7 linked regions of the Homo sapiens genome follow. The protein of the gene in region 7 purifies or fractionates together with the protein of the main gene of each other region. This does not show direct contact. Each region holds a gene or a part of one and is shown on either strand. Other genes may lie near its edges. The genes, in order: AGL, DPCD, WARS2, MGARP, DTD1, OAT and MAN2B1.

Region 1 (3,500 bases), on a different chromosome or scaffold from region 7:
AGTTAGAATCCAAGTGGTGCCAGGAGGGCTCCACACATAGAGGTGGCTTACTGTGGGGTAGCAGGCCCAAGCTGGGTGAGCAGACTCTATGTGGTGGTGATGGCCCAATGTGGGAAGTAGGTTATTCATTGTTGGAAAAGGGAATTACAAATATAGAAAGGGAGAAAAATAGAATTAAACACTGAGAAATAGCTTGGAACTGGTGTAAACTCAGGTTTTCAACACACATAGACAGGATACATTGAGATGAAGATAAGTGTGTATGTATTTACTTATGTTTATGTATTATTATATATTCCCTAGCCCTATCTACTGGGGGTCATAGTAATAATAAATACACCATGTGCTCAGATCTGGCTTCTAAATAACATTTTTCACTATAAAGAACAAGGGATCCTTAGAGAATTGCCCAATTCCAGGCTGGGGTAGTGAAAGTGAAAGATGAGTGTTGAAAACCTTGCTGGGCCAGAAAGCAAGGAAGGACTTCCATATGTGACAAACAGGAAGTAGTATGGACAGAATTTCCCTCCTGTCTGATACAACTGAAGAACTGGACATTAAGACATTAGACATTAGGCAACAAATAGCGATCCTTGAAGGATGAGAAACAAATGAAGCAAACCCTATGATTACCATACCTTACTGCCTTGAGAGTTTCCAGGATTTGGCACAGAGAGGGGGAACACAGGTGGAGCCTGGCAGACTTCCTTGAGTTGAACTGAGAATCCAGGAACACTACAAAGCAGCTACAATTTGCAGGATAGAGTACTAGAGAGGAAGGAGCTGTACAAAGAGAGAACTCTGAAGATATGCAGAGGGTCCCACTCAAGTATCTGTAGTGTACCAACCAGCAAATTCACAAGAGGAAACTACCAAAGAACAAGGAAAGAACCATCCAAAAGGATGAGAAGAAGCAGTATGTGGCACTCATACAGCGTCAGGAACACTTGCTTGTTCCCACCAGCCAGATTTGAAAACGTCATAATTTTCGAAATACAGGGTAGGGAACACAGATGGGTCTTGATTCACTAATGGAGAATAATTATTCCTAGACCAAATGCTATTCTGGTCAGGTCTAACAAGCTTAAAATCAAGACCAGAAAGGATCAAACTGTTTCCAAGTAATTTCACTGCATTCCAAAACAAAGCTCAAAAACATTTACAGAAACACCAAAAATCTAGCACCCAACAAGGTAAAATTCACATCTGGTATCTAATAAAAAATAACCAGGCAAATGGCTGGGTGTGGTGGCTCATGCCTGTAATCTCAGCACTTCAGGAGGCCGAGGTTGGGGGACTGCTTGAGCCTAGGAGTTCGAGACCAGCCTGGGCAAGATAGCAAGACCCCTGTCGCTCCAAAAATCAAAAAACAAAAACTACCAAGCAAAGAAGCAGGGTGATATGACCCAAAATAAAGAGAACAATCACAAGCAAAAGCAACCCAGAAATGAATTAGCAGACAAGGATATTAAAAGAGTCACTGTAATCATATTCCACATGTTCAAAACATTAAGCAGAGACATGGAAGATATAAAAACAGCCCAGATAAAACTTTGAGAAATGAAAACTACAACGTTGAAATGAAAAACACCAGCATGGATGTGATGGTAGGTTAGACATAAAAATGATGCAGATTTCTTATCAAAACAATGTAACCACCTTAAAGTATGAAAGAGAAAAAAGCTTAACTTTGAATTCTATACATAGTGAAAATATCTTTAAAATAAAGGCAAAACACAGATGTTTTACACTTATAAGAATTGAAAGAATTCATCATGAGGAGGCAAACACTACAAGACATGATGGAGAAAGTCCTTCGGGTAGAAGGAAAATGATACAAGATGGAGATACAGAACATCACAAACATATGAAGAGCACTGAAAATGGCAACTATAAGAGTAATTAGACTTTTTAATATATTATTTAAAGATCATTAAAACATAACTGACTGCCTAAACAAATGTAGTAACCATGTAGTGTGGGGGGTAATAACAGGTAAAAGCAAAATGGATGATGATGATAGCACACAGGCCGGGAGGGGAAAAATAAAACTATACTATTTTAAGGATCTTTATACCTTACTTGAAGTGGTATATCACTGGAAGGTAAACTATAAAGACATATACTATAAACCTAAAGCAGCCATTTTAAATAAACAAGAATTACATCTAATTAGCCAACAAAGGAGATTAAAATGAAATAATAAATATTCAATGCAAAAGAAGCACAAAAAGAGGAAAAAGCTAACAAAGAACAGACAGAATAAACAGACAACAAACATTTAAATTTCACAATTTCAGACCTTAAGTGTAAATGGTCTAAATATTCCAAAAGCAGAAACTGTTGTGCTACACGAGAGCAAGGCCCGATTACATGCTACTATGTACAAGAAAGCCACTTTAAATACAAAGACATAAATAGCTTAAAAGGATGGTAAAATCTGTACCATGGTGACAACCAAACAAAACAGACCAGGAGTGGCTCTATTAATATGAAACACGCAGAAGTCCCTTATGTGCTTGTAAGAAAGGAGATAAAATTTGTGCTGTTTATTCATTATCTGAGGAATAGAATATAGATATACTTAGGTATAATCTAAAATTTGAGGAATTAAGATACACTCTGAATTTATACTCTTATAAAGATACGTAACTCTGACACTGTCTATTTGCTAATAATTAGGACAAGGAAGTGAAAAATGTTTTTTGAACTAACAGGCAAAAGACCAGTTCTGATATTTTAACTATAATGAAAGCATTTCTGAAAACTATTTCTTGATATATCTTTAAATCAATTAACTCAAAAGGCCCAGGCTGAGTACCTTCAGTTTTTATATTTATCCTGTGCTAACCACATCCAAAAACATCAGGGAAATTTTAAAAATCAAAGACTATTCCACATGTATAAATCGCACAATATCAAGACCTCAACTTAAAATAAATAACAACCCAAAATAAGAGAAAGTGAAAATTATATAACAGAATTTGTCATGTTAAAGAATAAAGGCTTCACTTTTCATTGGGATACCTAGGGCATACAGAAATCAATTCTAAGAAACTGTAATTTACCTAATAGCTAATAAACTGACTAAACACTAGTTATGGAAATTACATGCTCCTGATGACTTACCTCTCAAGATGAACATAATGTCGGGAAAGAACATTTTTAACCAAAACTATAGTCTTTGCAGTAGTCTCCGGGCCCATCAATCTGGAAAAATATAATTTTGCACGAAGAAAATACCCAATAGGCCACAGCCACTCCTAAAAAAGATTATTTAAAAGACAAAAAAAACCATAAATACCTAAAAATTACTTGAAAAATAATTTAAACTGAAACTCAGAAGATAAATGAAATTCTTACAGGTCCTTGGTGATAATTGAAACCTTTAGCAAGATTGTAGTTGTCATTGTCTAATGCATTGTCATAAATTCCACAGTAAACCATATCACTGCAAAATGATTGAAATTTAAGTTAAATAAAAGATGATCAGATATTAT
Region 2 (2,421 bases), on a different chromosome or scaffold from region 7:
CTGAGGTGTTTCCCTTCACAGCCCATACAACCTCTGCAGCAGAAAGTGATGCCTTGCCCAAGTGACAGGTCTAGCAGCCCCTGGCCAGAGCCTAAGCCACATTTCCACCAAGGAAAATGCCAAATTGGTGTACTGTTAGAGATGAGGAGGCCATTCATTGTGCTTTGGTGTAGTAAGGATCAGACCAAGGACAAGGAATCTTACTCTAATCTTGACTCCCATCCCTACCGACAACTGGCCGTGAAACAAGGCAAGATATTTCATCTCTCTGAGCCCGAGTTCCCTTTTAGGTAAGGGGGGTCAAATTTCCTGCAAAGTCTAGTTATACACATTACAGACTGGGTGTTGCCATCTGTTCTATTTTTTTTTTTAATTAAAAGGCATCATTAATCGCTGAACCGGCACCTGCAGATGATAAGGACCATGTGTGATATGTAAAAATGGAGGAGTAGGGACTTGGGGCCAGCCAAGTAGTCCAGAGGTCCAGCTTCCGTGATGAGTAACATGGTTCGTCCTCTCAAAGAGATTTCTCCTAGTAGATATACTTTTCCCTCTGGCCTACAAGGCCAGGCTAACAAGGCCTTGAAAGGCCCCAAAAGAGGAAGAGGTAGTTGAGGCCTTCAGTGGACCTCCCATGTAAATGGTAACAGTAGGGCCCCAGCTTTGGGAGACAGATCTGAATGTCCTTACTCTGTCCTTTGTTAGAACACGTCCCATTTTTCTGGTGTCTCCATGAGGCTTTGGGGGTAGAGGAGTCCCAAGCTGCTTGAGCTATTTGTGTGTTCCAGGCTTCTTCTGCCTGTCTTTGGGAGACCCAGCTCTGAGATGTGAGTCACTACAACCCCTGGTCTAATCACAGAATTATAACTAGGTTCTGCTCTTCTGCCACTGGACTGGACATAAGGCTTGCATTCTATGCTTTCCAGGGCCACTGAGCTCTGAAATACTGGTGTTCTAACTGGTTTCCCTTCTCCCTCTCTGCGTGTGTGGAAGGTGTGGAAGAACTAGGTAGAAGCTAGGCAGCAGAGGGCCTGACGCCTGGCTGTTGGGTCACCTTGCCGAGTGCCCCAATGGCCTCTCGGTGTCCCCACAGGTACTACAAGAAGTTCTCCATTCCTGATCTAGATAGACACCAGCTACCTCTGGATGACGCCTTGCTGAGCTTTGCCCACGCCAACTGCACCCTGATCATCTCTGTAAGATTCACCCAGACTTCTTGGACACTGCATCAGGGAGAGTCTTCCTCTTTCCCTGCCCACTTCCCATCCCATAAGAGTCCTCAGTTCTAGCCCCAAGCCCTAGGGTATGCTTGTGGGAGAATAGGCATCTCTAATTCAGCATGGGGGAGAGCAGGGAGGGGGCTCAGGAAGGAGCCTGACCATATAATTCACAGCTAGAAGAGGGTAGAGGGTGAAAGGGAAGCGGTGGAAATTGCTGAACTTGGGTTCTTCTGGTCCAAGGTCTGCTCCTACTCAGGCACATGACCTTGAGCAAATCATTCAATCCTACAGGCCTCAATTTTCTCGTGCAAATAAGGGGATCAGAAGGAGAAGGGGCCCCAAGTGTGTGTGGAAGGAGATGGGACAGTGACTGAATTATTTTCTTATTCCTGGCTGCATCCACAGTACCAGAAGCCAAAGGAGGTTGTGGTGGCCGAGTCTGAGCTACAGAAGGAACTAAAGAAGGTGAAGACAGCCCACAGCAACGATGGGGACTGCAAGACCCAGTAGTTGGCCCCTGAGCCTTATACCTCCACCACAGGGGGTGCCGTGAGACTTCAAGGCTTGGCCCTTCTTGACCACGGCAGCCTCCTGTCTTCTAGGAGCTATCAAGGGTCTCTAAGAACTGGGCATGGGGCACTCCTAGCCAGTGAGTCATGGTCATATTTCCTGAGTAAAGTCATTCTGAGTTACTTACTGCACAGGGACTGCCCTCTTGTTCCCCTCTGTATGCTGCCTGGCCCCAGACCCCACTGGCCTCCCTCGGGAGGGTGTGATGACATTCCTTTCTCTATCCCGGAGACCTACAACATAAAGCTTTCCACAAAAAGGGAGAATAGGGTGGGAGCACATGGCCCTAGCAGGGCAGGGCTGGCCTTTCCCTGCAACCTGTTTACACAAACTCAGAGGAAGACCAGGCTGGAGGGACCCTGTGCTACCGTAGCTTGCAGAAGTGGCTCAGAGGAAACTCCTGAAGATGTGTGGGCAAGGGAAAAGTTTTAAAAATGCAGAAACCGGCCAGGCGCAGTGGCTCACGTCTTAATCCCAGCACTTTGGGAGGACGAGACGGGCGGCTCACCTGAGGTCAATAGTTCAAGACCAGCCTGGCCAACATGGTGAAACCCTGTCTCTACTAAAAACACAAAAATTAGCCGGCCATGGTGGCGCATGCCTGTAATTCCAGCTACTCGGGAGGCTGAGG
Region 3 (4,172 bases), on a different chromosome or scaffold from region 7:
ATTTTGGAAGTACTACAAGCACCTCAAATTTAACAGCCAAAACCAAACTGATCAGCTTTGTTGAAGACTATAACTTGATTTCCTAGTTTTTTTTTTGCCTTCATCCCTTTCCTGCTCACTTCTAAATTACACCAATTATACTTGAACTTCACCAGTACTTTGTATACCTACAAGATTATCCTATATGGTTTTAATTTACTGTTTTGTCTTACCCTGGTAGATTTCAGCTCCTTTATAGGCATCTCTTATCTCCTACCTCTCCTTGGTAATTTTCAGTAGCTGGATGAATTATAAACAAAACACATAAAGGAATTGTCATGAATTTCTTCCAGTTATATTTTTACTGAAACACTCGTTATCTGTCTGGGAGATTTTTAGGTGAATTAACAGAAGCAGAAAAACTGTATTAAACTTTCTCATAACCCCAAACAAAACAATTTCTTCCATCAGGTATAACCTTCCTGCAGCCTTCCCTAGACTAGGTTGAAACACCACAGTCATAACCACTCCTCCTTAAAACTTGCGGTGCTTGCTTCTTTAACACCTATTAAGTGTACATCATTTATTTATCCGCTACTCTATTAGACTGTACACAACTTGAAGACAAGATATGTCTTTCTCTGTACCTTCAGTGCCCAGCACATTACGGTAGGGTTCAACAAAGTTTACAGGACGAATGAAATAAGGCCACATAAGTCCAGTGCGGTGGCACATGCCTGTAATCCCAGCACTTTAGGAGGCCGAGGCAGATGGCTTGGCTTGAGCTCAGGAGTTTGAGAGAGCCTGGGCAACATGGTGAAACCCTGTCTCCACCAAAATACAAAAATTAGCCGGGCGTGGTGGCGCACCCTTGTGGTCCCAGCTACTCAGGAGGCTGAGGCAGGAGAATAGCTTGAGTCTGGGAGGTGGAGGTTGCAGTGAGCCGAGATCGCGCCATTGCACTCCAGCCTGGGCGAGAGTGAGACCTTGTCTCAAAGAAAAAAAAGGGAAATGAGGCCACACATGTCTAAAAAGACCACTTATATTACCCTCTAAGAGAACTGGGAGTTTCTAAACAAACTTTTTAAAGGTTGCCTTCACATAGCTAAGATCAGAAATGCAGCCTACTTGACTTTCTTCCAGTCTAAAGCGTTGCTACTAATAACCCCCAAGGAAATTCTCCTTCCAGGAAGGCTGAGCAGACAAGGGATCCAGGGAAAAACACTAAAGCCCCACCCCGCTCCTGTCCCCACCTGCTCGGCAAGAACTGCAGTCCGCCCGATAGCGGCTGCGCTGCGCAGCCTGGAGGCCCAAGCCGCGCCCAGCAAGCAGGAGTCGCGAGACTGGGATTGGCTCTCTGAACAGACGTCATTCCAAACAAGACGGCTCCGCCCTTCTCAAGATGGCGCTGCACTCAATGCGGAAAGCGCGTGAGCGCTGGAGCTTCATCCGGGCACTTCATAAGGGATCCGCAGCTGCTCCCGCTCTCCAGGTAACCAAAGACGGCCCTTCCCTCCGCGGCTTCCCATCCCGCGAGGTTCTTCTCATCCCACTGCCCTCTATTTATTTCTCTCCTCCCGCTTCTTAGGGAAAGTACATGCCTTCCCTCGCCTAAGGTCTACTCGTCTATGACTGTCGGCCTGCTCAGAGCGTAGTGACGTTGCAAGGATACGTGATGACGTAAAGGTTTCTTGGTGGAAAAAGCGCGCCGCTTTCTGACCTCTTGCCGCCACCTCCAGTTCTGGGAGCGGAGCGCCGCCGCTGTTGCCGGGCAACGCGGTGAGCCTACCCCGCGTGTGATGTTTTCAGAGACGGGTTGTTTTAGAGACTGCTCTTCTTGTGGTCTTATTACTGTTTTTACCCTCCTTACCCTAACAACACGCTAAGGGGCTATCGGAGAGAGTAGAGAAGTTTTGTTAGGCATTGGGCAGCTTGGGTCGGGGCAGCAGGTTGGCAGTGTGGTACTTGAGCAAGTGTCAGTGCATCTTCCATTCTGGTTGCTCCTGGTGGCTCCACAGCACTGCTCTATCTAGCAGGCTGTGAAAGAGTGACCGCAAGCTGCTACAGAGTTTGTCCTGTCCTGCGCTTGACAACACTGCTGTTACCATTAATCTCGTCGTACGGAGACCATGTCGCGGCCTGGTCTTATTGGGAATTGTCTTAAATATTTGGAATTTTACCCTCATAGCAAAAAAGTCAGGGGGAGGGGATACCCTTTCAGTTATTCAGGATTTTACCAAACGTCTTCCAAGTACAGTCTCAGTGGCAAGCACTTTGACATACTTTATCTACGGGAGATATATTCTGGGAACTAGAGAGAAAGGAGAGAATGTGATTTTATTAGGTAATTTCCCGGCATCATTTGCATATGTATTGCCATAATGAGTAGGTGTGAGGATGTCGCACCTATTGTAACTGTTGTGTTGAAAACAGCGCTAGACAGGAAGGTAGCCTAGAGGTCAAGGGTTTGGTCTGCCACTTGACAGCTGTGTGACAAGTCACAATCTCTCTGGGACTTTTCTTCTTTTTTTGCTCATATTGAGTGGAGGAAGAGAGCTGGACTGATTGACACGTTAATGTTCTTTCAACCTCTGGAAAATCTATAGTTCCATGATTATGAAGCCAAAACAAAGCCAATGAGAGTAATTATGAAAACCAAAATTTAAGTTCAACTTATTTTTCTAGTCATGTCATAAATTTTTTGAACTTCCGTTTTTTATTAATGTGAGCCTCACAAAATTCTTATAAGCTAATATATTAATATATACCGGAAAGCTGCTTGTCAGCAAACAACTATTCAAATGTCACCTTAAATTTCAGCAGCAATGTTAGGTAAGACAATTCAAAATTAGATAAATTTATCAAAAATTCCTCTCCTTGAAATTTGAGGGTTTGATTCTGCAGAACTAGAATGAGATGATTATTTATAATTTATAGCACATTAACACCTATGCTATCAAAGTAGCTAAGCCGTAGACCCAAACTTCCCCTTATTCCAAACTAAAGAATTGAAGATGTCTTGAGAATAGAGAATCAAAGAGAGAGAGAAAAAAAAGACAAACTGCAGCCTGCTAATGACTGCCCAGGGAAGTTTAAGACACTAAGTCATTATAAATGCTAAAGAAAAAATTTCTTAAACCTCTACTATTGTTTCAGTGGCATTTATGAATAGGGCTATTAAAGTTAATTATTAATCTAGATTGTTTCAAGATGTAGAATTTCCAGTACCGATGAATGTTTCTAAACCTTTAATTTAGCTTTGAGTAGAATAAGTATTAAATGTGAGAGTATTTTTTTAAAGTATAAATCTACATATAATTTCAGTCATTGAAAATGATGGTTTGAAAGATTAATGTGGTTTTTTGAAAGACTGAGAAAAGATACAAAATTGTGTTCATAGTGTTATTACGATGTTATGTTTATATATAAGTGTTTATATAAACGTATACATAGAAAAAAAGCCTGGAAGGGAACAAACATTTTTAACTTTTTTATTTTGCTTTGGCCTTCCTAAATAGTGGGTTAAAAGTTATTTGTTTCCTTTTATAGCATTACATATTTTTCACATGTCTAAATTGAAGACACACACTTTTTAATAACCAGAAAAACGTTTTGAAATCATAAATCTTTATACAGATCTTTAGTCATTAATATCATTTGTGATATTTTAGGATTCTGAGGAAGATACTTGTCCCACAATGCTGTTATTAAAATGGCCTTAGAAAAGGACTACTAAAAATTTATGGCCACTTTTCCTGTATGTATCTTCTTTTTCTCTTGAAAAGCTTCCTTTGAAGTCAAAGGGATTTTGTGAACAGATGCAGAAATATGTGAAAGAGGCATTGGATTCTTAAACCAGATGCATTAGACATTTTTATGATATCTCATAACCTTTGTAGAAAAAAATTATTTTGCAAGAGTATAGTATAATGGGAAAAAATGTATATTTATCATATGAATGGTTCCATCAAAAACCAAGAAATAGCCAAGTTAGTTTTTATTAGCCTTGGCTGTGCACTTACTCCCTTAGGTGTAAAGCAAAAGTGAATGAGCCATAACAGTGCTATGTTAGAAACTCTAACTAATAAAGTGTTGTGATTCCTAAGTTGTTTTAATGGTTTTTAGTGTTTTCTTTTTTTAAAACAAAATCTTGGGTAAAAATGTTGGCATAGGGCATCTTTGCTTATCTCAGA
Region 4 (2,280 bases), on a different chromosome or scaffold from region 7:
AGGGTTCAAGTGATTCTCCTGCCTCAGCCTCCCGAGTAGCTGGGATTACAGGCATGCGCCACCACGCCCGGCTAATTTTGTATTTTTAGTAGAGACCAGATTTCTCATGTTGGTCAGGCTGGTCTCAAACTCCCGACCTCAGGTGATCCGCTGGCCTCAGCCTCCCAAAGTGCTGGGATTACAGGTGTGGACCATTGCACCCGGCCCCGACATTACAGACATTCTATTTTCACAGCATAATTTTTACACTGTAAAATTGTTTGTAATTAAGTAGTACAATTTTTAAATAAGGTACTTGGTTTCTGATGGTTAAAAATTTAGAAGACACTATATATAAATAAATTTTAGAAATCTATCATCTTACCATTAAAAGTTAAACCACTACCAACATTTTCTTAAAAGCTAAATTAATACAAACAATAGTAACTGAATAATGAGATTTTCATTTTTTATATCATTTTCTAATATGAATACAGGCCAAAGAAGACTACTTAAATATAAAATGAAAGGAAGCCTGCACATTTTGTCTGTGATTAAAATAGCTTTCTTCCCAATACTGTTTCTTTCTTTCTTTTTTCTTTTTTTTTTTTTTTTTGAGATGGAGTCTTGCTCTGTCGCCCAGGGTGGAGTGCAATGGCATGATCTCGGCTCACTGCAACCTCCACCTCCTGGGTTCAAGCAATTCTCCCACCTCAGCCTTCTGAGTAGCTAGGGCTACAGGCGAGCACCACCACCATGCCTGGCTGTTTTTGTATTTTTAGTAGAGATGGGGTTTCACCATGTTGGCCAGACTGGTCTCGAACTCCTGACTTCAGGTGATCCACCCACCTCAGCCTCCCAAAGTGCTGGGATTACAGGCATGAGCCACCGCACCCGGCCTGATTCCAGTTTTTGACTATTACAAATAAAGGTACCATGAACATTTGTGTACAGGTTTTCATGTGAACCTAGATTTCCATTTCTCAAGGATAAATGCTAGAAAATATTTGTATATGCCTGTCAGGATATTCTGGTTGTAGCATAATTCATTTTTTTCTTCCTTGTTTTTAGTTATCTTTGGCTAAGATAGTGCATCTATTTCCTTCCCTTTTTAAAAAGTTTTATTTTAGGTTAAGGTGTACATGTGCAGGTTTGTTAATAGGTAAATTATGTGTCATGGGGGTTTGATGTATAGATTGATTTGTCACCCAGGTAATAAGTATGGTACCCAATAGGTAGTTTTTCTCTCCTCATCCCCTGTCTCACCTTTCTTCCTTTTTAAAGCATTCTATTTAATAACAAAGATTTCCAAAAGGGAAGTAAAAGAGTAAGTGGTGTGCACTGATTTCTCTTCTTTGCTACACTGGGATTATGGTTTAAACTTCTAATGGTGATTACAGGGAGACTTGAGTGTACCTTTGGATGTGGCGTGACAAATCTTAAAGCTCAAGAAATAAACCTAAGCATACATTTACTTTCAGGCTTACAAGACAGTCACATCAGACCAAGCCAAACACACAGAACATAAAACAAATTTGAAAGAAAAAACAAAAGCAGAGATACATCCATTTCAAGGTAAATGAATTTCTTAATTTTTTATTTTTATTTATTTTTTGAGGCACTAATTTCCATCCACTTAGTCTAGCAATGAACACTATTTGCTTTTGGCTTCTTTCCTAGCTTAATCCAGAATGACTCTAGGTATAAGTTCATTTAGAAAGGAAAAGTTCAACTGAAACCTGAAGAACACTGTTACACCTTTTGGATGAATGCATTTGACAAATGAATGTTTTACATTTATATTGCTGACCAGTGACTTTTGACTCCTTTGTGTGGTAATATTATTTTCCCCTGCTCAGGCATCCACCCATGCAGGCATGAGCTTTCATTTTTCTCATTATCTAAAAATAATAATATAACAAATTATCTTTCAGTTTTGGCTAAGACCACCTGTGTGCCTTTGTGCAAACAAGGTACATTTGACATAATAGAATCAGTTGTGTATAATGAGTCCTTCAGTTGATAAAATGGTGACCATGGGAACAGAAACTTTATATTTTCACTCTTTCCTTCCTTCCTACACTTCTTTTTCCCACCCTCCCTTCCTTCCCCCTTCCTTTCCCCCTTCCCTCCACGGGCTCTCCCTCTGTCAACCAGGCTGGAGTGCAGTGGTGCAATCATAGCCTACTGCAGCCTTGAACTCCTGGGCTCCAGCAATCTTCCCATCACAGCCTCTCAAGCAACTAGGACTACAAGCATGCACCGCTACACCCAGCAAATTTATTTTTTATGTTTTGCAGA
Region 5 (3,500 bases), on a different chromosome or scaffold from region 7:
AACAATGAGGGAGGTAGAGGGATGGGAGCTTAAGGAAATGCAGGGACAGGGAGGGAATAAACTAAATGCTTAGTCTTGCGACATTTTAAATACTACTCAAAGGATGCCTGGCTGTTTGGTACAGAAGTCCAAGTGTCTCAGGGTTTCCTTTTGTAATTCCGAGGCTATAACAAAAACCAGCTAGTATTGCCGAGATCTATGATGCATGCATTTGTCATCCAAAAGTTAAACTAAAGCTAAAGCCTAACAGAAGAGTTTCTATTCCCTCAGATCTAGATTCTAATTGGATGGACTTCAGTAAAAGCAAAAGATTTCAATACGACTCAATATGCCATGGCAGTGCCACCTCCATGGATGTGCTTCCTGATACACTCAGTGCAGGCCACCTTCTTAAGAAAGGGTTGTATCACAAGCAGATGCTTCCATAGACTAACAGCCCTCATTCCCCTGCCCAGCTGGATAGCGAAGTCCCTGTGCACACATGAGAAAGGCAAGCTGGAACCACAGCTAGCCCATGCTCTGCAGCTCTGTCTGCCACCATATCCCCAAGGGCTACCCTCGTACACCCAAACCCACCTGTAAGAGTCCTGCACACCTTCCTAAGAGTTTTCTAAAAGACAACCAGTGGGTGGAGAACAGACAACATCATTCCTGGGGACCATATTACTTTCAGTTTTTAGCTATTAGAAACAACCCATTTGTTCTTACATTGTGTGGATGATGTTAACCCAAGTTACGGACCTGGGGACTATTCATACTTGTTTCCCTACCTTCAATACCAATAACTGAAATACTGTAATTGTTCCCCACATTGACCTTTGAGAAACTCCATCTTCTTGGCACAGATTAAAATCTTTGTTTTTGAACTTAAGATGAGCTTTGGAATCCTGGTTGAACGTATTTTTCTTTTACATTTACTTCAATTAAATATTCTACAATATTCTACATTTTTAATGCATTGGGATAATTTAGTCTTCAAATATTTGATGTGCAGATGGAAATTATAAAGCTCACAGTAAAAGAATGACCTAGAGAAATGTTAAAGATATTCTGTTAAAAGATAAAAAACAGGTGACACTATATATATACAGTATGTCTCCAACTTTGTAAAGTTAGAGAAACAGATGTAGAATTACCTGTTTAGAAAAAGTATTCCAAAGCATTATGTTAATAATAATTATCAGAGGTGGAGCCAAGATGGCCAAATAGGAACAGCTCCAGTCTACACCTCCCAGTGTGAGCCACGCAGAAGACGAATGATTTCTGCATTTCCAACTCAGGTACAGGGTTCATCTCACTGGGGATTGCTGGACAGTGGATGCAGGACAGTAGCTGCAGCACACCGAGCAGGGCGAGGCATCGCCTCGCCCGGGAAGCGCAAGGGGCCAGGGAATTCCCTTTCCTAGCCAAGGAAAGGGGTGATAGACAGCACCTGGAAAATCGGGTCACTCCCACCCTAATAATGCGCTTTTGCAATGGTCTTAGCAAACGGCACACCAGGAGATTATATCCCGCGCATGGCTCTGAGGGTCCTACGCCCACAGAGCCTCGCTCATTGCTAGCACAGCAGTCTGAGATCAAATTGCAAGGTGGCAGCAAGGCTGGGGGAGGGGCGCCCACCATTGCCGAGGCTTGAGTAGGCAAACAAAGCGGCCGGGAAGCTCGAACTGGGTGGAGCCCACCGCAGCTCAAGGAGGCCTGCCTGCCTCTGTAGACTCCACCTCTGGGGACAGGGCACAGACAAACAAAAGGCAGCAGAAACCTCTGCAGACTTAAATGTCCCTGTCTGACAGCTTTGAAGAGAGTAGTGGTTCTCCCAGCATGCAGCTTGAGATCTGAGAACAGACAGACTGCCTCCTCAAGTGGGTCCCTGACCCCTGAGTAGCCTAACTGGGAGGCACCGCACTGTAGGGGCAGACTAACACCTCACACGGCCGGGTACTCCTCTGAGACAAAACTTCCAGAGGAACGATCAGGCAGCAACATTTGCTGTTCACCAATATCCACTGTTCTGCAGCCTCCACTGCTGATAGCCAGGCAAACAGGGTCTGGAGTGGACCTCCAGCAAACTCCAACAGACCTGCAGCTGAGGGTCCTGACTATTAGAAGGAAAACAAACAAACAGAAAGGACATCCACACCAAAACCCTATCTGTACGTCACCATCATCAAAGACCAAAGGTAGATAAAACCATAAAGATGAGGAAAACACAGAGTAGAAAAACTTAAAATTCTAAAAATCAGAGCACCTCTCCTCCTCCAAAAGAATGCAGCTCCTCACCAGCAATGGAACAAAGCTGGACAGAGAATGACTTTGACGAGTTGAGAGAAGAAGGCTTCAGATGATCAAACCACTCCGAGCTAAAGGAGGAAGTTCGAACCCATGGCAAAGAAGATAAAAACCTTGAAAAAAGATTAGACGAATGGCTAACTAGAATAACCAATGCAGAGAAGTCCTTAAAGGACCTGATGGAGCTGAAAACCACGACACGAGAACTATGTGACGAACGCATAAGCCTCAATAGCCAATTCGATCAACTGGAAGAAAGGGTATCAGTGATGGAAGATCAAATGAATGAAATGAAGCGAGAAGAGAAGTTTAGAGAAAAAAGAATAAAAAGAAACGAACAAAACCTCCAAGAAATATGGGACTATGTGAAAAGACCAAATCTACATCTGATTGGTGTACCTGAAAGTGACGGGGAGAATGGAACCAAGTTGGAAAACATGCTGCAGGATATTATCCAGGAGAACTTCCCCAATCTAGCAAGGCAGGCCAACATTCACATTCAGGAAATACAGAGAACGCCACAAAGATACTGCTCGAGAAGAGCAACTCCAAGACGCATAATTGTCAGATTCACCAAAGTTGAAATGAAGGAAAAAATGTTAAGGGCAGCCAGAGAGAAAGGTTGGGTTACCCACAAAGGGAAGCCCATCAGACTAACAGCGGATCTCTCGGCAGAAACTCTACAAGCTAGAAGAGAGTGGGGGCCAATATTCAACATTCTTAAAGAAAAGAATTTTCAACTCAGAATTTCATATCCAGCCAAACTAAGCTTCCTAAGTGAAGGAGAAATAAAATACTTTACAGACAAGCAAATGCTGAGAGATTGGTCACCACCAGGCCTGCCCTAAAAGAGCTCCTGAAGGAAGCACTAAACATGGAAAGGAACAAAGGTACCAGCCACTGCAAAAACATGCCAAATTGTAAAGACCATCGAGGCTAGGAAGAAACTGCATCAACTAACGAGCAAAATAACCAGCTAACATCATAATGACAGGATCAAATTCACACATAACAATATTAACGTTAAATGTGAATGGGCTAAATGCTCCAATTCAAAGACACAGACTGGCAAATCGGATAAAGAGTCAAGACCCATCAGTGTGCTGTATTCAGGAAACCCATCTCACGTGCAGAGACACACATATGCTCAAAATAAAAGGATGGAGGAAGATCTACCAAGCAAATGAAAAAACAAAAAAAGGCAGGGGTTG
Region 6 (3,500 bases), on a different chromosome or scaffold from region 7:
AAAAATAAATCATGGCACTGTTGATTCTGATATTTCAGAAACTGGCTAGTTTTAAGGGCAAAAGGGAACTGAGTGGCCATTTTGTGCTGGATTTGGCACAGTAACATTAACCCATTTCATCCTCAGTGACACTTCAACCTCCTTTTACAAATGGGGAGACTGAAGCTCAGAAAGATTGACAGAATCACCCAGAGTTACTCTTCAGAACCACAGACAGAATTTAAAATCCCGGTCTCCAAACTCGGGATTTTCCGCTTGATTCTCCCGGTTTTGAAACCTTTTTGGAAGAGGCTGTTATTGATGTTGGCTATTTTTAAGTCCATCTTAATTCTGCTCTAAGATTTCTCATACAGTGCCAAGCACAGTAACTTGAACACAGAAGGTTCTTTAATAGAAATGCGTTTACAGGATTTTGATACATCATGGCTCATCCAGTTTCTGACCTTTCCCAGTTGAATTAAATATCCAGAATTCATCTTAAAAACCTTAAGAATAGCTGACTCAGGGGTGTGTGCCTGTAGTCCCACCTCTTCCTGAGGCTGAGGCAGAAGGATCCCTTGAGCCCAGGTGTTCGAGGCCAACCTGGGCAACATAGCTGAGACTCCATCTGTAAGTGAAAAGAAACAAAAACCTTAAGAATGAGTATTAGTAATGTTTTGAATGATATTATTTTGTCCCCAGTTATTCTTTAATAAAACTGCCTAAACTTAACAGGTAAATGAATTTTTCATCCCATTTCTGTTGGAAATTAGCTGTGCAGATAACTTTTATATAAAATAAGAATGTTGAATTTAGATAATCTCTGATATTCCTTTTTTTTTTTTTTTTTTTTTTTTTTTTTTTTTTTTTAGCGCTTTGTAGCCCAGGCTGGAGTGCTGGTGGCACAGATCGTGGCTCACTGCAGCCCAGAACTCAGGGCTCAAGAGATCTTTCCACCTTAGTCTTAGTCTCCTAAGTACCAGATACTACAGGTACGCATCGCCACACCTGGCTAATATTCATATTTTTTATAGAGATGGGGTCTCCCTATGTTGCCCAGGTTGATCTTTAACTCCTGGGCTCAAGTGATCTGCCTTGGCCTCCCAAAGCGCTGGGATTATAGGCGTGAGCCACCTTGCCTGGCCCTAGAAAGTTGTTACGGTTTAGAGCACCACTAAGTATTGCCTGAGTGTTTTACTGCTAATTTGATAGGCAAAAATTAATGTTCTAATTTTTTAGTTGATCAAACAATTTATTCATACTGAGTAAAGCATAAAGAGTCCAAGAAAGAAATCATACATGAGTGTTTTAGACTTAGCAGTAGTATTTTGGGGAAGTTACATATAGTACAGTTAGACATTTTTGCTAGCAGCTACCTCCAGTTGGATGATTCTTACATCACTTTTGTTTTGATTGTTGGTACCCACCCCTTTGAGATAAAGTCTGATGAAAGTTATGGACCTTCTTCTTGGAAAAATATACGTCTGCATGTAATTCTGCATTTTATTTCAGGAGATTTTGGACTCTCTGCAGACTGTCCCTGGATCTTGGGTTAAAAATCTGTATTCTAGACTGAACCGTGGGAAGAAAAAATAGTCAGTGAGTCTTTGGCAAACCGGAGTACTGGATTTTGTTTAGCAATTGCAAATTCCTGAACATACTGGATTTACTGGGTAGTGCCAAGTTTAAAGGGAAGTAAGCCAAACTCCAAGTATTATGTTTTGCTAATTTGGCAGCTCGAATCAAGAGTGGCTGTGAGATTATACATGGTTTGACTTGTCATTGGTAGACTTCTGTTGAAACATGAATTAACTAGTCTTTTAGAAAGTAAGTATAGATGGAATAAGTATGCCTAGTTTTTGGCAACTTTCTCCTAATCATGAATTTATCTTTAAGCTTTTTTTTTTTTTTTCCTTCCAGAGGTGATTCCTATGCACATGCTCTAATTTCCTTTTAATTATTAGTTTCTTTCATAGCTTAGTTTTTACTTCATGGCTTATCAGGATGCTTAATGGTAAATTGGGTACAAAGAGGTGTGTGAAGCCTTGTGGAGGGGCTAGTTTTAGGGCTGGGGGTGACTGGGGAGAGTAGCTATGGCTCTGACTTATGTGATGGGGCGGCAGGGTAAACACCAGCCTGCTCAGTGATGTTTAGACTTTAACACTCATACAAGTAACGGATTGTAGTTTGTAGTTTGACTCTCTCTAGTTTCTCAGTTACCTTTTGCTAACAATAGCTTTTTCGTTTGTTTGTTTGTTTTTTGAGACGGAGTTTCACTCTTGTTGCTCAGGCTGGAGTGCAATGCGCAGTCTTGGCTCACTGCAGCCTCGTCCTCCCAAGTTCAAGCGATTCTCCTGCCTTAGCCTCCTGAGTCGCTGGGATTACAGGCATGCACCACCACGCCTGGCTAATTTTGTATTTTCAGTAGAGACGGGGTTTCTCCATGTTGGTCAGGCTGGTCTCGAACTCCCGATTCAGGTGATCGCCTGCCTCTGCCACCCAAAGTGCTGGGATTATAGGCATGAGTCACCGCACCTGGTCAACAATATCTTTTATGCTACAATTTTTCAGGATAAGTTTTGTAGAAACAACCATCCTAGCAGAATAGATTGTTTTGTTTGGGAATCTCATATATGTGTGTGTGTGTGTGTGTGTGTGTGTGTGTGTGTGTGTGTGTATGTATTTATGTATGTATGTATATGTTGGTCTAATTCAACTTGCTGTGAACACTTTAAAGCTATTATAAGTTAACATTTTTTTCCTAGTCTTTTTGCCTTTCACCTTTGTTTATGATAAATTTGACCTACAGAAGTTTTAGATATTTGTGGCTAAATAAAAGATTTTAGGCTGGGCACAGTGGCTCACACCTTTAATTCGAAAACTTTGGGAGGCCGTGGTGGGCGGACTGCTTGAGCCCAGAGGGATGGACAGTTCCTCTGTCTCCTGCCCCATGCCTAGTCTCTGGCAGTCTTCTCTGATTTGGTCTCCCTGCCTCTGGTCTCTGCCCTACAGTTGTAGCTGTCTCATAGCATTGTGCCTGATGGTATCGGACTGTGGTAGGTGCTTAACAAATACTTAGTGTTTAGCAGGTACTCAGTCAACACACAGTGCATTAGCTCTGGAAAGAGTCTTACTCTTATTGATTGGTTGGTTGATTGATTGCCTGATTGACAGGGTATCACTCTGTTGCCCAGGCTGGCCTCAAACTCTTGGGCTCAAGTGATCCTCCCGCCTCAGCCTCCTGAGCAGCTGGGGGCTACAGGCACAAACCACCACACCTGACTCAAGATTCTCACTCTTTTTTTTTCTTTTATAGAGACTATGTTGCCTAGGCTGGTCTTTAACTCCTCGGCTCAAGCGATCCTCCCATCTTGGCCTCCCAAGGTGCTGGAATTACAGATGTGAGCTATCACGCCTGGCCATTTTTTTTTTCTTGAGACTGGGCCTTTCTTTGTCTCCCAGGTTGGAGTACAGTGGCACAATCTCAGCTCACTGCAGCCTCAACTTCCGGGCTCAAGCAA
Region 7 (3,500 bases):
ACCCACTTTGCACAGAAACACCCCTGGCTGGTCCTAGTGTGGTCACGGCACTTAAGGCCAAGCCCCCTCGAGATGCGTTGTTCTCTCTGCTGACCCAGCTTCGCAGCCCACGTAATTTCACTCCTGTATAGTCCTCCAAAAACATTTTCCAACTACCCCCTCTAAAGCCCATCTGCCCTAGATCCACCCCTCCCGTCCCGGCTCACGCGCGCCGCCGTCTGGCTGAGCGGGCAGATGCTGATGTTTAGCTGTTGGCAAAAGGTGAAGTGATCTTTGAAGCCTCTGAGCCGCGCCAGCGCGTTGCTCAGAAGAACCTGCGGAAGAGCGCAAAGGGACCGGTGGGTTCAGGACGCCAGGCCTGACTCCTCCCCTCTCCTCAGGCCCCGCCCCGTTCCGGTCTCTGTCCCGCCTCCCTCAAGAGTCGCCCCAAAACCCCTTCTAGCCCCACCCTGCTGCCCTTGACTATACCCCATAGCTGTCTCCGCCTCCTCTTGCCCACGCCCCGCCTCCTTCCCCCCTCCAAAGCCCCGCCCCGTTCCTGTATCTTTCCCCGCCTCCTACAAGCCCCGCCCCCACGAGCCCTTGTAGCCCCGCCACAGGGCTCTCGGCTACGCCTCACACCTGTCTCTGTCCCCTTTCCCAGGCCCTGGCCCCGCCCCTTCCTGTCTCCACCCCCGTGTCTCCCAAGTCTCGCCCCGCGCACCTCGCAAGGCCCCCAGCCTGCCGCAAGCTGGCGCGCGTAGTCGTTGGCCACGTGCTGGCGGGAGGTGCCGCTGACGGCGTCGTGATGCTGGAGCACAGCCATCGCCTCATCTGCTCATAGACAATGAGTCCGGTGAGGTTCTGTGGGACTCAGCTGAGACCCCAAGGGGAAGCGAAAGGTCCGGTGCTGGCGGGCAGGATTCTTAGAGGCTTTAAGAAGGAACTCGAGGACGGCTGGGGGCGGTGGCTCACGCCTGTAATCCCAGCACTTTGAGAGACCGAGGCGGGCGGATCACGAGGTCAGATCGAGACCATCCTGGCTAACATGGTGAAACCCCGTCTCTACTAAAAATACAAAAAATTAGCCGGGCGTGGTGGTGGGCGCCTGTAGTCCCAGCTACTCGGGAGGCTGAGTCAGGAGAATGGCGTGAACACGGGAGGTGGAGCTTGCAGTGAGCCGAGATCGCACCACTGCACTCCAGCCTGGGAGACAAATCGAGACTCCGTCTCAAAAAAAAAAAAAAAAAAAAAAAAAAAGAAGAAACTCGAGGGGGGCGGCCTAGGGGTGGTTTCCAACTTCAGCCGCAAACCTCTTCCCCTCTTGGGCCCGACACTTACTGAGGGGTGCACTGTCTCCGGAGCCATAGGGTCCCACGTTGGCCGCCAGGCCCACCAGCGCCTCCAGCTGGTTGCACACCTGGAGGCAGAGGGGTATGTTGGGGCGCCCAGCCTGTCGGGCCTCGGGGCTGCATGCCCCCTCTAGCCCGGCTCCTACCCACCTGCAGGAAGTTGTAGCTGAGGCGCTCGTAGCGTTTGAGGGCCGGCCGACTGGAAAAGTAACCGGTCCAGAACTGGTGGGGGCCATCCGCGTAAGGGAAGAAGTCGTCATGTTTCACTGACCTACAGCGGCAGGGGCATTGAGGGCAGGGTCATGACCCACGGGGCATGCCAACCCCCCCAAGCTCCCCAGTTTCCCCAAATACCAGGTGAGGTTGGCCTTGTTCAGCTCCCAGAGGTAACAAGCGGGGGTGGAGTAGAGAACATGGACACTGCTTCCTTTTGCCTGCTGCTGGGGGAGGCGACGGAGTGAGCCCTCGGGAGTCCGCACCTTCCTGGGGGCCCACACTTCCACACATGTGTGCACATTCATGCATCCCATAGGTTCAGTTTCTCTAAATACATATTTGGCGTGCAAGCCAATGGTTGGGTGTGAAAATGAATTTTGGCTGAAGTCAAACATGACCACTAGCCTTTTTTAAAAGGATTTCAGAGATGCAAGAATAAACCTGAAATTTTACTAAACTTTTACAATAATTCCAACTTTATTATTAAAAACTTTTGTGGAAAAACTAAGTGTGACATTATAGGGCAGGAATAATCGTTTTGCAGGACTGTCAGATTGTTACCAAAAAACACAACTTTTTTTTTTTGGGACGGAGTCTTACTTTGTTGCCCAGGCTGTAGTGCAGTGGCTCAATCTCAGCTCACTGCAAGCTCCACCTCTTGGGTTCACGCCATTCTCCAGCCTCAGCCTCATGAGTACCTGGGACTACAGGTGCCCGCCACCACACCCGGCTAATTTTTTGCATTTTTTAGTAGAGACGGAGTTTCACCGTGTTAGCCAGGATGGTCTCGATCTCCTGACCTCATGATCCGCCCGCCTCAGCCTCCCAAAGTGCTGGGATTACAGGCATGAGCCACCGTGCCCGGCCTAGACACAATTTTTATAATGAATGGAGGTGCACTTTCACCTGAGCAAGGTGGAGGAACAAGAAAGTGACCTATGTGAGGAAAAGGATGTTTGTTTTGCACGAGCTGTGTCCCCCAATGTACACAGTAGGTGCTCAATAAACTTTTTTTTTTTTTTTTTTTTTTGAGACTGAGTCTGACTCTGTCGCCCAAGCTGGAGTGCAGTGGCACGATCTCAGCTGGCTGCAAACTCCGCCTCCCAGGTTCCAGCGATTCTCCTGCCTCAGCCTGCCGAGTAGCTGGTCTTACAGATGAGTGCCATCACGCCCACCTAATTTGTAGTATTTTTAGTAGAGACAAGGTTTCACCATGTTGGCCAGGCTGGTCTCCAACTCCTGTCTTCAAGTGATCCGCCCACCTCAGATTACAATCCCAACACTTTGGGAGGCCAAGGCGGACGGATCACCTGAGGTCAGGAGTTTTGAGACCAGCCTGGCCAACATAGTGAAACCCTGCCTCTACTAAAAATACAAAAATTAGCCAGGGTTGGTGGCACATGCCTGTAGTCCCAGCTACTTGGGAGGCTGAGGCAGGAGAATCACTAGAACCCAGGAGGCAGAGGTTGCCATGAGGCAAGATCATGCCACTGCACTCCAGCCTGGGTGACAAAGCAAGACTCTTGTCTCAATAAATAAATAAATAAATAAAATTTTAAAAAGAAAAAATAAATAAAAATAAATGACATAAAAGAGCTGTTTTGGTGAAATAGCAGTGCTGGGAGCGAGTGGAAGGTGGGAATGGAGATTGCACCGTAGTGAGGACAAGATTGATGGGAAGGGGTGTCTGAGATGGGAGAGGGGAGACAAGTTTCTGTGCTGATGAGAGTGACTGACTGTGCACACAGCCACAGCCACAGGCCACTTAGTGCAAAACACTAACACATCTGTGTTGGGTAAAATGATAACTGCCCAAAAGTGTCCATGTCCTGATCCCCAGAACCTATTACCACATTAGATTACATGGCAAAAGGGGAATTAAGGTTGCAGATGGAATTGAGGTTGTTCATCAGCCAAACTTAAAGTAGGGAAATTAGGCCACACAGTGGCTCA

The links.
Region 1: the proteins of MAN2B1 (region 7) and AGL fractionate together in Homo sapiens (co-fractionation; one large-scale study listed by BioGRID). This does not show direct contact.
Region 2: the proteins of MAN2B1 (region 7) and DPCD fractionate together in Homo sapiens (co-fractionation; one large-scale study listed by BioGRID). This does not show direct contact.
Region 3: the proteins of MAN2B1 (region 7) and WARS2 fractionate together in Homo sapiens (co-fractionation; one large-scale study listed by BioGRID). This does not show direct contact.
Region 4: the proteins of MAN2B1 (region 7) and MGARP fractionate together in Homo sapiens (co-fractionation; one large-scale study listed by BioGRID). This does not show direct contact.
Region 5: the proteins of MAN2B1 (region 7) and DTD1 fractionate together in Homo sapiens (co-fractionation; one large-scale study listed by BioGRID). This does not show direct contact.
Region 6: the proteins of MAN2B1 (region 7) and OAT fractionate together in Homo sapiens (co-fractionation; one large-scale study listed by BioGRID). This does not show direct contact.

What each region holds. Positions count from the first base shown.
Region 1 is NC_000001.11:99,916,361-99,919,860, reverse strand, and holds part of AGL (glycogen debranching enzyme), read right to left. Parts: intron 3,452-3,500; coding exon 3,364-3,451; intron 3,264-3,363; coding exon 3,130-3,263; intron 1-3,129. UniProt on the Homo sapiens protein: Multifunctional enzyme acting as 1,4-alpha-D-glucan:1,4-alpha-D-glucan 4-alpha-D-glycosyltransferase and amylo-1,6-glucosidase in glycogen degradation.
Region 2 is NC_000010.11:101,607,742-101,610,162, forward strand, and holds the end of DPCD (protein DPCD), read left to right. Parts: intron 1-1,093; coding exon 1,094-1,196; intron 1,197-1,625; coding exon 1,626-1,730; 3' UTR 1,731-1,921; downstream 1,922-2,421. UniProt on the Homo sapiens protein: May play a role in the formation or function of ciliated cells.
Region 3 is NC_000001.11:119,137,854-119,142,025, reverse strand, and holds the start of WARS2 (tryptophan--tRNA ligase, mitochondrial isoform 1 precursor), read left to right. Parts: upstream 1-1,372; 5' UTR 1,373-1,381; coding exon 1,382-1,471; exon of another isoform or gene 1,472-1,758; intron 1,759-4,172. UniProt on the Homo sapiens protein: Catalyzes the attachment of tryptophan to tRNA(Trp) in a two-step reaction: tryptophan is first activated by ATP to form Trp-AMP and then transferred to the acceptor end of tRNA(Trp).
Region 4 is NC_000004.12:139,267,946-139,270,225, reverse strand, and holds part of MGARP (protein MGARP), read left to right. Parts: intron 1-1,460; coding exon 1,461-1,554; intron 1,555-2,280. UniProt on the Homo sapiens protein: Plays a role in the trafficking of mitochondria along microtubules. Regulates the kinesin-mediated axonal transport of mitochondria to nerve terminals along microtubules during hypoxia.
Region 5 is NC_000020.11:18,759,054-18,762,553, reverse strand, and holds part of DTD1 (D-aminoacyl-tRNA deacylase 1), read right to left. Parts: intron 1-3,500. UniProt on the Homo sapiens protein: Possible ATPase involved in DNA replication, may facilitate loading of CDC45 onto pre-replication complexes. An aminoacyl-tRNA editing enzyme that deacylates mischarged D-aminoacyl-tRNAs.
Region 6 is NC_000010.11:124,412,424-124,415,923, reverse strand, and holds part of OAT (ornithine aminotransferase, mitochondrial isoform 1 precursor), read left to right. Parts: intron 1-851; exon of another isoform or gene 852-971; intron 972-1,491; exon of another isoform or gene 1,492-1,806; intron 1,807-3,500. UniProt on the Homo sapiens protein: Catalyzes the reversible interconversion of L-ornithine and 2-oxoglutarate to L-glutamate semialdehyde and L-glutamate.
Region 7 is NC_000019.10:12,656,743-12,660,242, forward strand, and holds part of MAN2B1 (lysosomal alpha-mannosidase isoform 1 precursor), read right to left. Parts: intron 1,772-3,500; coding exon of another isoform or gene 1,769-1,771; coding exon 1,686-1,768; intron 1,603-1,685; coding exon 1,482-1,602; intron 1,400-1,481; coding exon 1,321-1,399; intron 814-1,320; coding exon 704-813; intron 315-703; coding exon 207-314; intron 1-206. UniProt on the Homo sapiens protein: Necessary for the catabolism of N-linked carbohydrates released during glycoprotein turnover. Cleaves all known types of alpha-mannosidic linkages.